Regions from separate parts of the Homo sapiens genome. Here regions 1 and 3 are each linked to region 2. The links come from fine-mapping of genetic effects on gene expression. A gene starts in region 2. Each other region holds a variant in brackets. All regions are shown on one strand. Distances are from middle to middle.

Region 1 (4,169 bases), 110 kb before region 2:
CAGTAACTCTAGATCGTAAGTGAAAGTGAGGGGTCTGACAAAGGGTCCTTCTTAATCATACATGAATTTGTGTGCATGACAAGTTTAAATGTACCCAGTGTCAATCCTTAGAAATAGCATATTTTCCCAGAGCAAGCCCACCCCAAAGAAGGAGCCAGAGAGGCCTGGGTTTGAATCTCTAGCTCCATCACATACTTTGTGAGCTTGGGCAACTCGCTATTCAGAACTGCATCCTATTCAGTATTCCATCCTTACAATTGGGATAATAATAGTTTCTAATAATAAGGTTTCTGTGTAATCAATGATATAATGTATAACAAATACTCATCCCAGGAACTGGCTCCAAGTAGTCATTCAATAAAGGGTATCTGTTGTCATTATTATTATCCCATTGTTAGTAATTATCAACAAATTTTAAAGGATCTAGAAGTAAGCATTTATCGAATATCTGGGTTTAGAGGCTTAAAAGCATTGGACAAAATCACTTTAAAAATCAGCAAATTTGGGCCAGGTGTGGTGGCTCAGCCAAGGTGGGAGGATCACTTGAGGTCAGAAGTTCAAGACCAGTCCAGCAAACGTGGCAAAACCCCATCTCTACAGAATACACAAAAATTAGCCGGGCCTGGTGGCGCAGGCCTGTAGTTCCAACCACGTGGGAGGCTGAGGTGGGAGAATGGCTTGAACCTGGAAGGCAGAGGTTGCAGTGATCTGAGATAATGCCACTGCACTCCAGCCTGGGCAATCCGTCTCAAAAATAAATACATACATACATACATACATACATACATACATACATACATACATAAGCAAATCTGTAAATATCAATATGCATAACCATTAGTTTCTTGACATAAAAAACCTCCCAATCTCCCAATTAACTGAATACACTAGGAATAAATAGATGAATACAATGGAATATTATATCACTATTAAAATGAATGAGGAGGTTCTATAAGCCTAGATATGGGAGGATCTTTGGATATCATGTAAAAAAAAAAAAAAAAACCAAGGTGCAGAATAATGTGATCCTATCAGGGGACAGAAAAGAGGAGGGTGGTATATATGTGCATAGATGTATAAAATTCCTCTGGAAAGATACATAAGAAATTAGTGAATATATGCTGTCCCCAGAGAGGAGAACTGGGTGGCTGGAGGATAGGGAGGGAGGGAGATGCACTGTTGAAAGCCCAGCACCATGCATCCTGAACGTTTTCCCTGGCTCTTAATGTCCACTAAGTTCTCAGATGCCCACAGCATCTCTCTCCTCTACCCTCTTCTTCCTCCTAGTTCCCCATTGAAAGCAACTCCTGCCCCATCCGTTCCTGGGCCAGACTCAGGGAGTTGTAGTTTTCCTACCTGTTTCCCGCCCACAGGTTCCTGTTCTCTGCCCCCAGTGCCCAGCAGTCTCCAGCCATCTCCAGCTCCTCACATTCCTGCCCCACCCCTTCCTCTCTCCCCAGGTCCTAGCCCGCAAACTGCAGGGAGGGGGCCTCCTCCCCAGCCTCCACCCGTCTCTCCCCCTCCACTCCACACAGCCTCAGCGGGGTCTGACATTCAGCTATAACCGTGTCCCCGCCCCTTGCTCACAACCTTCCAGGGCTCCCTGTCACCCTCAGAAGGCTAAGTTCCCAGCCTGGCCTGAAACTCCCTAAGAATCTGACCCCGCCCGCTCGCCCCACCAGCCTCATCTCCTGTGCTCCTTGGCTCCTGGCTTCGGAGGCTCTAGTCAGACTTAAGGGCTTTGTTGTCCTCCCAGCACCTCCTTGGTTTCCTGCCTTGGGCCTTCGCTTCAGCTGTGCCCTCTGCCTGGAAGGGCCTTAGTGGAGGTCATGCCACAACCACGCCTTCTCTGGAGGTCCTCTCTGCCGTCTCCAGCTGCCAGGATTCCTCCCGCCCTGGGCTCTCACAGCCTCTGGCCTCTCCCTGTGTCATACCCAGATCACCCGGGATTGGGACTGTCTGCGGCTGGCTCTGTCTCTTCCATCAGACTGTGAGCTCCATCTGCAAGGGCAGATTCGGGTCTGATTCACCTTTGAGCCCCCAGTGGGTGGGGGTGGGGG[G/GA]TGGAGATACTAAAGCTGGTGGGGGCGAAGCTGGGAGAGCAGGAAGGGGGAGAGAGAGACGGGCAGACCCTGACTGGTTCGGGGAGAGAGGGGAGGAGAAAGCGAGAGAGAGGAAGAACAGAGACACAGAGACAGGAAGGGAGGGAGAGAAACAGAGAAAAGGGAAGAATAAATGGGAGACACAGATAATGCCCCACAGGCAGAGAAAGAGGATGGAGATAGGGAGAGGGCGAAAGGAAGGACAGATGTGCAGAGACAGAAGGGAGGACAGACGGAAAGAGACACAGAGAGGCAGCAAAAGCAACCAAGAATGACAGGAGCAGAGAGGAGGAGGGAAAGAGGGAGAGAGAGAGAGAGAGAACGAGAGAGAAGGGAGGGAGGGAGAGAGGGAGAGAGAGAGCGAGAGAGCACGCACAGAGCGAGGAGGAGGCGCAGGAGAGAAGAGGGAGGGAGGCCAGCGAGGGACAGGACGGGGCGGAGAGGCGGAGGGGAGCTAGGGAAAGCCGGGGAGGAGCGAGACTGGCCGAGGAGGAGGGCGGGCGAGCGGGAGCGCCGGCCCCGCCGCCTCCCGGCCTCTTTTGTCCCTTCCCTCCTCTGCGTCAGGCTTCTCTGGCCCGGCCTCCCCCTCCCGCTCCCTCCTCCTCCCCGGGGCTGGATGGAATTTTTTCCCCTGGACCTGGGCCAGCTCCGGGGCAGGGGGGAAGCCAGGCCGGACTGGGCTGGGCGGTGGGGAGGGGCCGGGGCGGGGGGCCCCCTGGGGAGGGGGCTGGTCCGACGGCCGCGCAGCCGGCGGGGTCCAGGGAGGGGGAGCCCCGGACCGCAGAGCCGGGGAGGAGGTGACGGCCGGAGGGAGTCGGGGAGAAGGGAAGGAGGATGGCGGGGACGGCGGGAGGAAGGGGAGAGGCCGCCGTGCGGCGAAGGCGGGGAGAGGATGGAGAGCGCTCGGCGGCGGTGGGGCCCGGCCTGCGGGCCCGGGGCGGCGGAGAAGACCCCTTCCCTGCGACGCGGGAGCCGCGGGAGCCGTGAGTCTGCGGAAAGGGAGGGTGGGGGGCTGGGGCCCGCACTCCTGGGTCCCTGAGGGAGGAGCACCCGGGGGCCTGGATTTCAGGGTTCTTGGAGGAGGAGTTGGGGGTGGGGAGGGTGGGGTGGCTGGGAGCCCAGACTCCTGAATCCTTGAAGGAGGGGGCTGGGACCTGGATCCCGGGGTCCAGAATCTGGAGAAGGCTGGGGACACTTCCTGGATTCAAGAGGGAGGACAGAGATGGGGGCTGGGGCTGGTAGGATCGTGGCTGGAAGAGACTAGGGGCGAGCTGCCCGAGCCCTCGGGGGAGGTGGAGGAAGACTGGCTTTGGAGTGCCTGCGGCAGCGGAAGGGTTAACGTCTGGCTGGAGGGGAGGGGGAGGCGCAGGGATGGGGCTGCGGGGCTTTGAGGGGTCAAGGGTGAGCCGTGCCAGTGGGAGGGGGCCGAGGAGGAGGGGGAGGTTGTCTGGGCTGCCAGACAGGCCAGGGTCAGCGGCGGGGGCAGGAGATGTCTGGAGGAGGAGAGGCCCAGCATCCATGCTCCCTCGGGGACCCGGGATTCCAGGTCCCAGACCCCTCCTCCCTCAGATCTGGGAGTACACCACCCAGTCCCCCACCCATTCCAGAATCCGAGCCCCCAGCCCCCTTTTTTCCAGGATCCAGGAGTCTGAGCCCCCAGTCTGTTCTCTCAGACCAGGGAATCCACACTCCAGCCCCTAACTCCTTCAAAACCCCAGAGTTCAGAACCTCAGCCCCTCTTCCCAAGGAGCGCGGCCCCCAACCCTCTGTTCCTCTAGAACCCAAGCGTTCAGGCTCCGGCATCTTTCTCCCTTTGAAGCCTGCAGTTCTGGGGATCCCCAGGCCCCTCCTCCTCCGGAACCCAGGAGTCCCCACCTCCTCTTTAGCCCCAGCTGGAGTCCAGCCCTCCAGGGGTTAAGGGGGCGGGACCAGCTAGTTGCCATGGTGCCAGACTGTTTGGGTCTGCTCTCTGACCCTTGGGGGCTCCCCAGGGTCCGCAGAGAGGGGGAGGGGGACCTAGGCCTGGGGGAAGTCCAGAGCCTACCCCTTCCCCAAAGCGGGGCTATGGGC
Region 2 (4,169 bases):
CTGTAATAAAATGGAAGAGGCATGTGAATGAGTCACATTTTCTGCCTGTCTCATGATTCTGGCTCGGGAGGGCCTGTTGATGCAATGTCCAGAACAGTGGCAGCCATTCTGTGGTCACTTTCAAGAAAGCCCTAGAAGAAAACCAATATGATGATGGAGTGGAAGGGTGACATTAAACTCAATTTTTGTTCAAACTCCAGATCTATCCCCTTCCAAAACTTTTTTTAATAATAAATTTCTCCATGGCTTATGTGCTTCATTGGTTTACTCTACCTTATCACTGAAAACATCCAGTGAATCAGAGAGAAAATAGAAAATAGTTGACTCTTGTTTTGTGGCTCTCCACTGTTTTTCATGGTTCTATTCCTTGGGCTTGAGAACAACATTCTGATGGTGTTTAAAAACTCAGAAAGAGCCCATCTCCTTAGATCAGTAGTCCATAGAGCATCTCCCTAGGGGCAGAAGGTTAGGGGGTTAATCTCGGCAATGGTGTGGAGTGTACAGTGTCTCTCATTTACCTTCCTTACCTCTCTACATGCTCCTAGTTACTGCTTCTCTTTGTAACTCTGAGGTATGAAATACCTCAAAGCATATTTGATTTTGTCACAGATTTCTGGCACAGGGCTCTTAAAACCCTTGGAATTCCCTGAGTGATAGGAGTATTATTTGTTATTCATAAACAGCCCCTTTTGATCATAGCTGAGTTTATGCTAAGGAGATCATGGCCTTAGGATGGGACTGGTCACCAGAAAGACCAAGGGATTAGAGGGTTGGAGCTGTCAGCCCCACCTACTGATCTCCAGGAAGGGGAGGCAGGGACTGGAGATTGAGTTCCATAAAAACTCTTGAACAATGAGATTTGATGAGCTTCCACATTGGTGAACACTCAGGAGTGCTGGGAGAGTGGCTGCCTGAAGAGAGCATGGAAGCTCCATGCACCACCCAACCCCTTCCCTGCCATATACCTGCCATATGCCTCTTTCCAATGGACTATTCCTGAGGTATATTCCTTATATAAAGCAACAGATGCAAACAAAGTGCTTTCCTGAGTTCTGTGTGCCATTCTAGCAATTTATTGGTGTCATTGGAACACCCAATTTATAGCCTGTCAGTCAGAAGTACAAGTAGCCACCTGGGACTTGCAACAGATGTCTGATCTGATCTGAGAACAGTTTGTGGGAGTGAGCCCTTTAGCTTTTCGGATCTGAGCTGAATCCAGGTAGACAGCATCATAACCGAATTTTTAATTGCAGGTGGCCCAGGTGGTGTCCCCAGAGAATTGGAGAATTTCTTGGTGTAGAGAAAAAGTATATTTGGTCAGAAGGATTGTGAAAGTAGAGAATCGAGTTTTTGTTTCACCGTGCATCTTTGTTTTTTTATTGTTTTTCCTCTCATTCTTCTCACCTTGGTAATTGTTTCTTTCATTTTCCTGAATCTCTGAAAAGAAAGGGCCTGGACTCTCAGATTTCTTGGCCTTTGATATTTGGAAGGATGAACTCCAGTCTCCCACAGAAGGCTAGAGGTGAAGGAACATTCAGACACATAAGTTTCCAAGATAAATCGTCTGAGAACATCTCCAAGGTGTCTTCTGGGAATGGTAAGAAACCCTGAGTTTGTGTCACTGGATTGATTCCAGCTCCATTGTCCCCGTGTCCTTCAACTAAGTCTCTGCTGAAGCCTGTTCTATAAAAACAGCAAGTAAGTGGTTTGGACTGACCTATTGTACTAGGTTCGACAAAGCAAACCAAATGGAGTCAGTCATACTAAAACTCCACATCACCAAACCAAAACTAATGTATCTGAACTTTTGAGAAATCAGGAGAGAGAGAAAATGGACAAATTCCTAAAACAGGCCAGTTTCAGTGGGCATGAACATGAAGTTCTGTCTGCTTTCATCTTTACAAAAAAAAAAAAAAAGCAATCTGTGGTAACTTGACTTCAATCAATCAGTTGTTCCTTATTGCTGTCTCTCTATTCCTGCTGCACAAAAAAAATGCAACATCCAGATGACCAATCAGGTTTTTGTTCTCTGTTTCTGCTTTCTTTAGCCCTCCTATCCCTGTAAAACCAACTTCCTTGGCTCTAACTATCAAAACACTCATTTTGTTTTATAGCATGACAGGCTGTCTGATTCCATCTTTATAACCAAAGCCAATTAAGATCTTAAAACCAAACATATAACTTCATCTTTTTACAAGTACTTAGAGCCTGAGTTGCTCCACAGGAATCCAGGAACTGGGCACAGGAAAAGGATCTAAGCTGGTGGTAAGTTGGGGTCTGAAAATTTTAAAGTTATTGTTGAAATGCCTGCTATATGACAGAGCCCTTCTAACTCTGGAGTAGCGTAGTCCAGTGAAGAATCCACTTCGTTAGTATGAAAACAATGTTAACTATTTCATTAACAGTGTTTAATTTGGTTACATGTTCCAGTAACATTCTTTTTTTTTTTTTTTTTTTTTTTTTTTTTGATGGAGTCTTGCGCTGTCACCCAGGCTGGAGTGCAGTGGCACAATCTCAGCCCACTGCAACCTCTGCCTCCCAGGTTCAAGCGATTCTCCTGCCTCAGCCTCCTGAGTAGCTGGGATTACAGGCACCTGCCACCACGCCTGGCTAATTTTTTGTATTTTTAGTAGAGACGGGGTTTCAATATGTTGGCCAGGCTGGTCTTCAACTCCTGACCTCGTGATCTGCCCACCTCGGCCTCCCAAAGTGCTGGGATTACAGGCGTGAGCCAATGTGACTGGCCAATTCTTTATCATATATGTAATTAAATAAAATTTATTACTAAAATAATTTCCCCAAAGGTGTTTTACTTTTTTAAAAACAGTGGCTACAAAAAAATTTTGAGTCCCATATGTAGCTAAAGTTAACACATTATATTTCTACTGGACATGTAGCATTGTAGAGATGTAGCATTGAAGGATCTTGATAGTCCTGTGGAGCTTACGTACTAGTGTGGAGGGTATTTAAGAGAGAAGATAAATGAACAAACAAATAAAGGAGAAAAGTATCTGGTGAGATAGGCTGTACCTGAGCATTCTGCTTTGCAGAGTGGGTGAGGTGGGATCTCTCTGAAATAATATTTGACCTGAAATATGAATATTCAGGATGAGCCAGGTGCAGGAAGCTCAAGACGAAGAGCACGGTAGGCAGAAGGAATAGAGAAAGCAGAAGCCCTGAGATGACAAAGAGCTGCAAGTTCAAGGAATTAGAGCCCAGTGGGTGGAGCCCAGTGTGTCTGATGAGAGTGCAGAGATGAGGTCTGAGGGATGCACAGGGCACATGTGGCAGTGGATAAGGGAACCTAGGATAAGGGAACCTAAGATAAGGGTAACTTAGAAGTCTGGAAGCCATCGGAAGGTATTGCGAATAACATCACCATCTTATTGGACCTTTTTAAAGCTCATTTGGTTTCTGTCTGGAGAATGGATCTTAGGGGAGGGGGCAGCAGGACCAGGAAAAAGCTATTTGCAAGGCTTGTGCAAATATCCAAGCCTGACAGGGCCATGGACACCGGTCGTGGAGATGGCAATGGCTCTGGCTGTGCATTCAGCATGTTCTGTAGATAGAATGAGTAAGACGTGGATGGCGTTGGGTGGTGAGGAAAAGAGAAATGAAAGGTGAGTTCTAGATCTGGAGCTTTAACAACTGAATATTTAATCTCCAAATAGATACAGAATATTGGAAGAGTGGCAGGTCTGGGAGGCAGAGAACATCAACAGTTTGGTAAAACCATGTGAGGTTTGGAGTCTATGGGACTCCCACGGGGAGAGGTTTTATCAGACTTGAGTGCCAGGGAGAGGCCACGGCTGATAATTTAGATGAAAAGACAGCATAATGGTTTAATCCCAGAGACTGGATGATATCATTTATAGAATGTGAGATACCCCAACATTTAGAGTCAAATTTAGAATAGAAAACACCGTAAATTGGACTAAAAAGAGGAAGAGAATCGAGCTGTAGAGACGACCAAGAGTGTATTGTGTGCACATATCTCTTGGATATATCTCATGGCATAGGAAAAATGTGTTTGAAAAGGGAGAAAGTGATCCAATGGGTCCTGTGTCATTGGGATATCAGGTCTTAAAAACTGAGAAGGACTCACTGGATTTGGCAGCCTGGGGGTCATAAGCATCCTTGGGAAAATGCATTAGGTGGAGTGCTAAGGA
Region 3 (4,160 bases), 430 kb after region 2:
GCCCCGACCTGCTCAGGCAGAGCCTTCATTTTAACAAGATGCCCAGGTTCATCTGCACACTGAAGTTAGAGAAGTCCTGCCTTAAATACTAACCCAGTTTTTCTCTCTTGAGAGTGAGGTTAATGCTACGTGGGTCTAGGGCTGAGGATGTGCTATGGCTCAGAGGTGGGGTCTACAATTGGACATGTGTATGTAGACAAGGCTCAGGGATATGTTGAGGCTGCTAGATTGGGCAAGTGATGGAATGGGATTATTACAGGAGGTGGAGGTGCGATGGATACCCAGGATGTGCTGGGTAATGAGGTGATACTCAGCGACCACAGGAGTGAGTATGAGAGACGAGGGTGAAGGATAGCTTGAGTTATTGAACGCTGGCAGAGTCCTGAGTTAACCAGGAGTTGCCTGGTGTCTTGGGTCATGTGCTCTAGAAGCAGAGCCCGAGTGGAGACTCGTTCAAGTGTGTTACTGAGGGAGTGCTCTCAGGAGAACGGACTGAGGTAACTCACCTTCTGTGAGCTTCATGTTGGAAGAATCCAATCAGGTGATGAATGTGATGTTATTAAGTCCATTGTTAGGAGTGGTTCCTAATCTCCCAGGCTGCAGGCTTTGTTTGCTCCATACACCTGGCCTTCTCTGTAGCAGCTGAAGTTTGATGCTGGAGCTGGGTCAGGGTGGAGAGACTGTGTGGAGCCAGGACTCATGACCCTGGCCTGTTTCTCCCGCTCTCTAGGCCTAAATCCCAGCAGTCACACTGGCCATCTCTAATGGTTCCTTCCACAGCACTGTTCTTCAGAGCCCACACACAAATTTTGTCTCCTTTTGTGATGACTGCACTTCTTTGGCTGTTTTTGCCAACAGCCTCTTCACTGACCCCTTCCTTCCACTGCATTGACCCAGACATCTGGATGTGGATGAGGTCGAGTCACTTGTTGCCTTTGGCTAATGCATAGGGGCACGAGTAGAGCTCTAGAATCACCATGCCCTTGACTCAGGGTGCAGAATCTGCCTATGGTGCTTGAGCTGTGGTTGTCGCTAGAGGAGAATTACCATGGCTCCCCCGGGCAGATGAAGATGACGAGGTGGTGCCTCAGCCCCGAGGAGTGAACTGCAGGGCACCGACAAGATTCTGCCTGTGGCCATCAGGGCTGGAGGGAAGGAGGCCAGGTTCATCTACCCAAGCTGGTGGCATGAGGCATAAATTTAAAAAAATTGGTGTGGGCACAGTGGCTCGCACCTGTAATCCCAGCGCTTTGGGAGGCCGAGGTGGGCGGATCACCTGAGGCCGGGAGTTCGAGACCATCCTGACCAATTCAGTGAAACCCTGTCTTTACTAAAAATATGAAAAAATTAGCTGGGCGTGGTGGAGGGCGCCTGTAATCCCAGCTACTCAGGAGGCTGAGGCGGGAGGATTGCTTGAACCTGGGAGGCAGAGGTTGCAGTGAGCCTAGATTGGGCCATTGCACTCCAGCCAGGGTGACAGAGCAAGACCCCATATGAAAAAAAATAATAATTCAGGAACTTGTCAAAAAGAGAAAATCCAATAAAGATTTAGTGCCAGGCCTTGACTCCAGCAGGCCTTCCCCGCTCTCTCGATGTCTTGCCATACAGAGCTGCAAGGTGGTGGGGGGTTACAGGCTTTGTAGGGCTGGATTTTTCCCAGTCGGCCTCCAGGAAGGGTAAGAGACTAGTAGCTCGAAGTTTGGGTTGGCTGATTGGGTCCTTCCCAGACTTCGGAGGAGGGAAGGGAAACCTGAGGCCCCAACTCTTCATGGGGAATCACTGCTCTCTGTCCCCAAGAGCACATGCCTTTCCTGACAGAAGCTGAGTAGCGGGAATCTGCTTCCACCCACCCCTTAGCTTGGGCTTAGGCTCAGTCCCCA[C/T]CCTGCTGTTCCTGTACCCTGTGCATATTCTAGAGCAGTAGGGAGAATGGGCCTTCCCTGATGCTGAAAATAAGAATGAGGGGCTAGAACTCCAATCTCACTCTCTAGGCAAATGGCAGATGTTTATTATTCATGAATACTGTTGAGTTAATTCAGGTCTGTGTTCCTTTGCTGTTACTCCTCTTTTTTCGTATATTTTGTACAGATACTAAGCTTTTATTTTATTTTATTTTTTGAGACGGAGTTTTGCTCTTGTTGCCCAGGCTGGAGTGCACTGGCACTCCACCTCCCAGGTTCAAGCGATTCTCCTGCCTCAGCCTCACAAGTAGCTGGGATTACAGGCATGCGCCACCACGCCCGCCTAATTTTCTATTTTTAGTAGAGACGGGGTTTCTCCGTGTTGGTCATGCTGGTCTCAAACTCCCGACCTCAGATCATCCGCCCGCCTCAGCCTCCCAAAATGCTGGGATTACAGGGGTGAGCCACCGCACCCAGCCATTTTTGTTTACTTTTTGAGATGGAGTCTCGCTCTGTTGCCCAGGCTGGAGGGCAGTGGTGCAATCTCCACTCACTGTAACCTCCACCTCCTGGGTTGAAGCGATTCTCCTGCCTCAGCCTCCTGAGTAGCTGTTACTCTTAACATGGATAAAAATACTTTAAAAATTTTTCTTTTTTGGGAAACTAAAAGATATGCGATTCTCAATTGATTATTCAGTCTGTGGCCTTCTACTGAAGGAGCATACAGAATCTCACCTCCAGGAGCATGGAGCTCTCTTGGATAGGATCCTGCTTTCTGAGGCCAGAGCTTACTCTCCTATGTGATCAGAGGCTTTCACAGCATCCGCAGTGGTCTCCAGATCAGCCCTATCATGGAGGCTTGGTCCAGAGATCTTCATATGAAAAGGGAAATAATAAGTGTCTGGGAGACACTTCTGCAGGGATCCTGCCCTGTCTCAATAATCTCCCCCATGGCCACAGAAATACCCTGGGATTTTCCCAGGAGCTAGCCGACACACACAGATAGATTATGAACTTCAGATAGAAGCCCCAGCCTAGCCCTCACTCTGATACCTGTCATCCCCAAACTGCTCTGAAGTGCTTATGTGCTGGTATCTCCCAAGAGTCTGCATGTCAGTGTGTCTGTGCTAGTGTAATTTATTTAGAAAAGTGCAAAGGCAAAGGGCAGGATCAACAGGCAAAGGGCAGGATCCTGGAGGCTGGATCTAGGGTCCTCTTACCTGATTTATGTCACTGATTTTCCCAAATATTGATAAAAATGAATTGATCTCTAGGTGGCAGAGAAACAGGAGGAACCCTAGACTACATAGTAAGTAGAAAATAATGCTGCATGTCATTTAGATTGAGCTCAGCCCTGAGTCATGAAGTCTTCAGAACAAAGGAATAGTTCTCCCTTATCTGATGCTCACTGTGGCCTTGGGCAGCCTGGCATCGAGAATTCTCAGCATGTTCACTCTTGAGTTCTGTGCCTGCATCACACAGCAATGGAACAGTCCCAAAAGATTCTTAAGGGTGGGGAAAGGCACTAAGAAAAGATGAACCTGCAGTCCCTGTTATACCATCTGGTCTAATTGATACTACTGTTGTCAAGCAAAAGGAGCTCTCTCCCTGAGGCACTGGAAGCCAATATTTTGACACCAGGTTTTTGAGAAAGAAAAGTTTTTTATTGTAAGTTGACTCACAAGATGAGTCAAGCTCAAATCTGTCTCCCTGTGCTGGTTTTAAGGCAGTAATTTAATTATAAAACGTTTAGGAGGTGGATTCTGGGGTTCTCAGGTGATAGGTAGAAGGAAAGGAGAGGTCTGGAAAGTCTTCAGGCATGCACAGTTCTCTTCATGTCTCCTCATGCATCATGCGCACATTTAGTGGGAGTTTGAAACATGGTGAGGAAATTCAGGCTGTGACATCAGCATGCTTGGTCTGTGCAAACTCCATTTGGCCATATTGGTTTCAACCAATTTTGGCCAGTTTTGTAGAGGGAGTTTGAGCATTTCAGAAAGTTATTTCTTATCTGCTGTTCTGTAAATTCATAATCTTTGTTAGTTACTGGTTTATTTAACTCTTTGGGCATGGGTTCACTACCACCTGTGCTGACCCCACTTGATCTTTTGGGCCTCCTTACTTCCCACCTTCATTCTCTCATCATACTTTATATACACTAATAACTCCCCTGCTATTCTGTATGTAACCCAAATATCAGCTGTACTGCCTCATCTCTTAGATATCTATGTATACTCTGACCTAATCAAAACCAGAAATTGT

The links.
Region 1: its variant is fine-mapped to the expression of FPR3 in whole blood (INTERVAL, PIP 0.94).
Region 3: its variant is fine-mapped to the expression of FPR3 in nasal epithelium (TOPMed, PIP 0.96).

What each region holds. Positions count from the first base shown.
Region 1 is chr19:51,686,501-51,690,669 of GRCh38, forward strand. SPACA6-AS1 (SPACA6 antisense RNA 1) reads right to left here. Exons shown (of 2, transcript NR_108100.1): 2 at 1-2,001. It also overlaps a transcript of SPACA6 not described here. Among named protein-coding and RNA genes, the nearest start is that of MIR99B, 4.0 kb to the right of the region's middle. RefSeq lists a silencer at 1,492-1,710 and enhancers at 3,488-4,169, 3,832-3,931. The variant G/GA (reference allele first, on the strand shown) is at 2,061.
Region 2 is chr19:51,793,067-51,797,235 of GRCh38, forward strand. It overlaps FPR3 (formyl peptide receptor 3), which reads left to right and starts at 2,091. Exons shown (of 2, transcript NM_002030.5): 1 at 2,091-2,265.
Region 3 is chr19:52,227,949-52,232,108 of GRCh38, forward strand. PPP2R1A (protein phosphatase 2 scaffold subunit Aalpha) reads left to right here. Exons shown (of 15, transcript NM_014225.6): 15 at 1-1,570. It overlaps LOC105372449 (a long non-coding RNA gene), which reads left to right and starts at 3,479. Exons shown (of 3, transcript XR_001753993.2): 1 at 3,479-3,566. The variant C/T (reference allele first, on the strand shown) is at 1,881.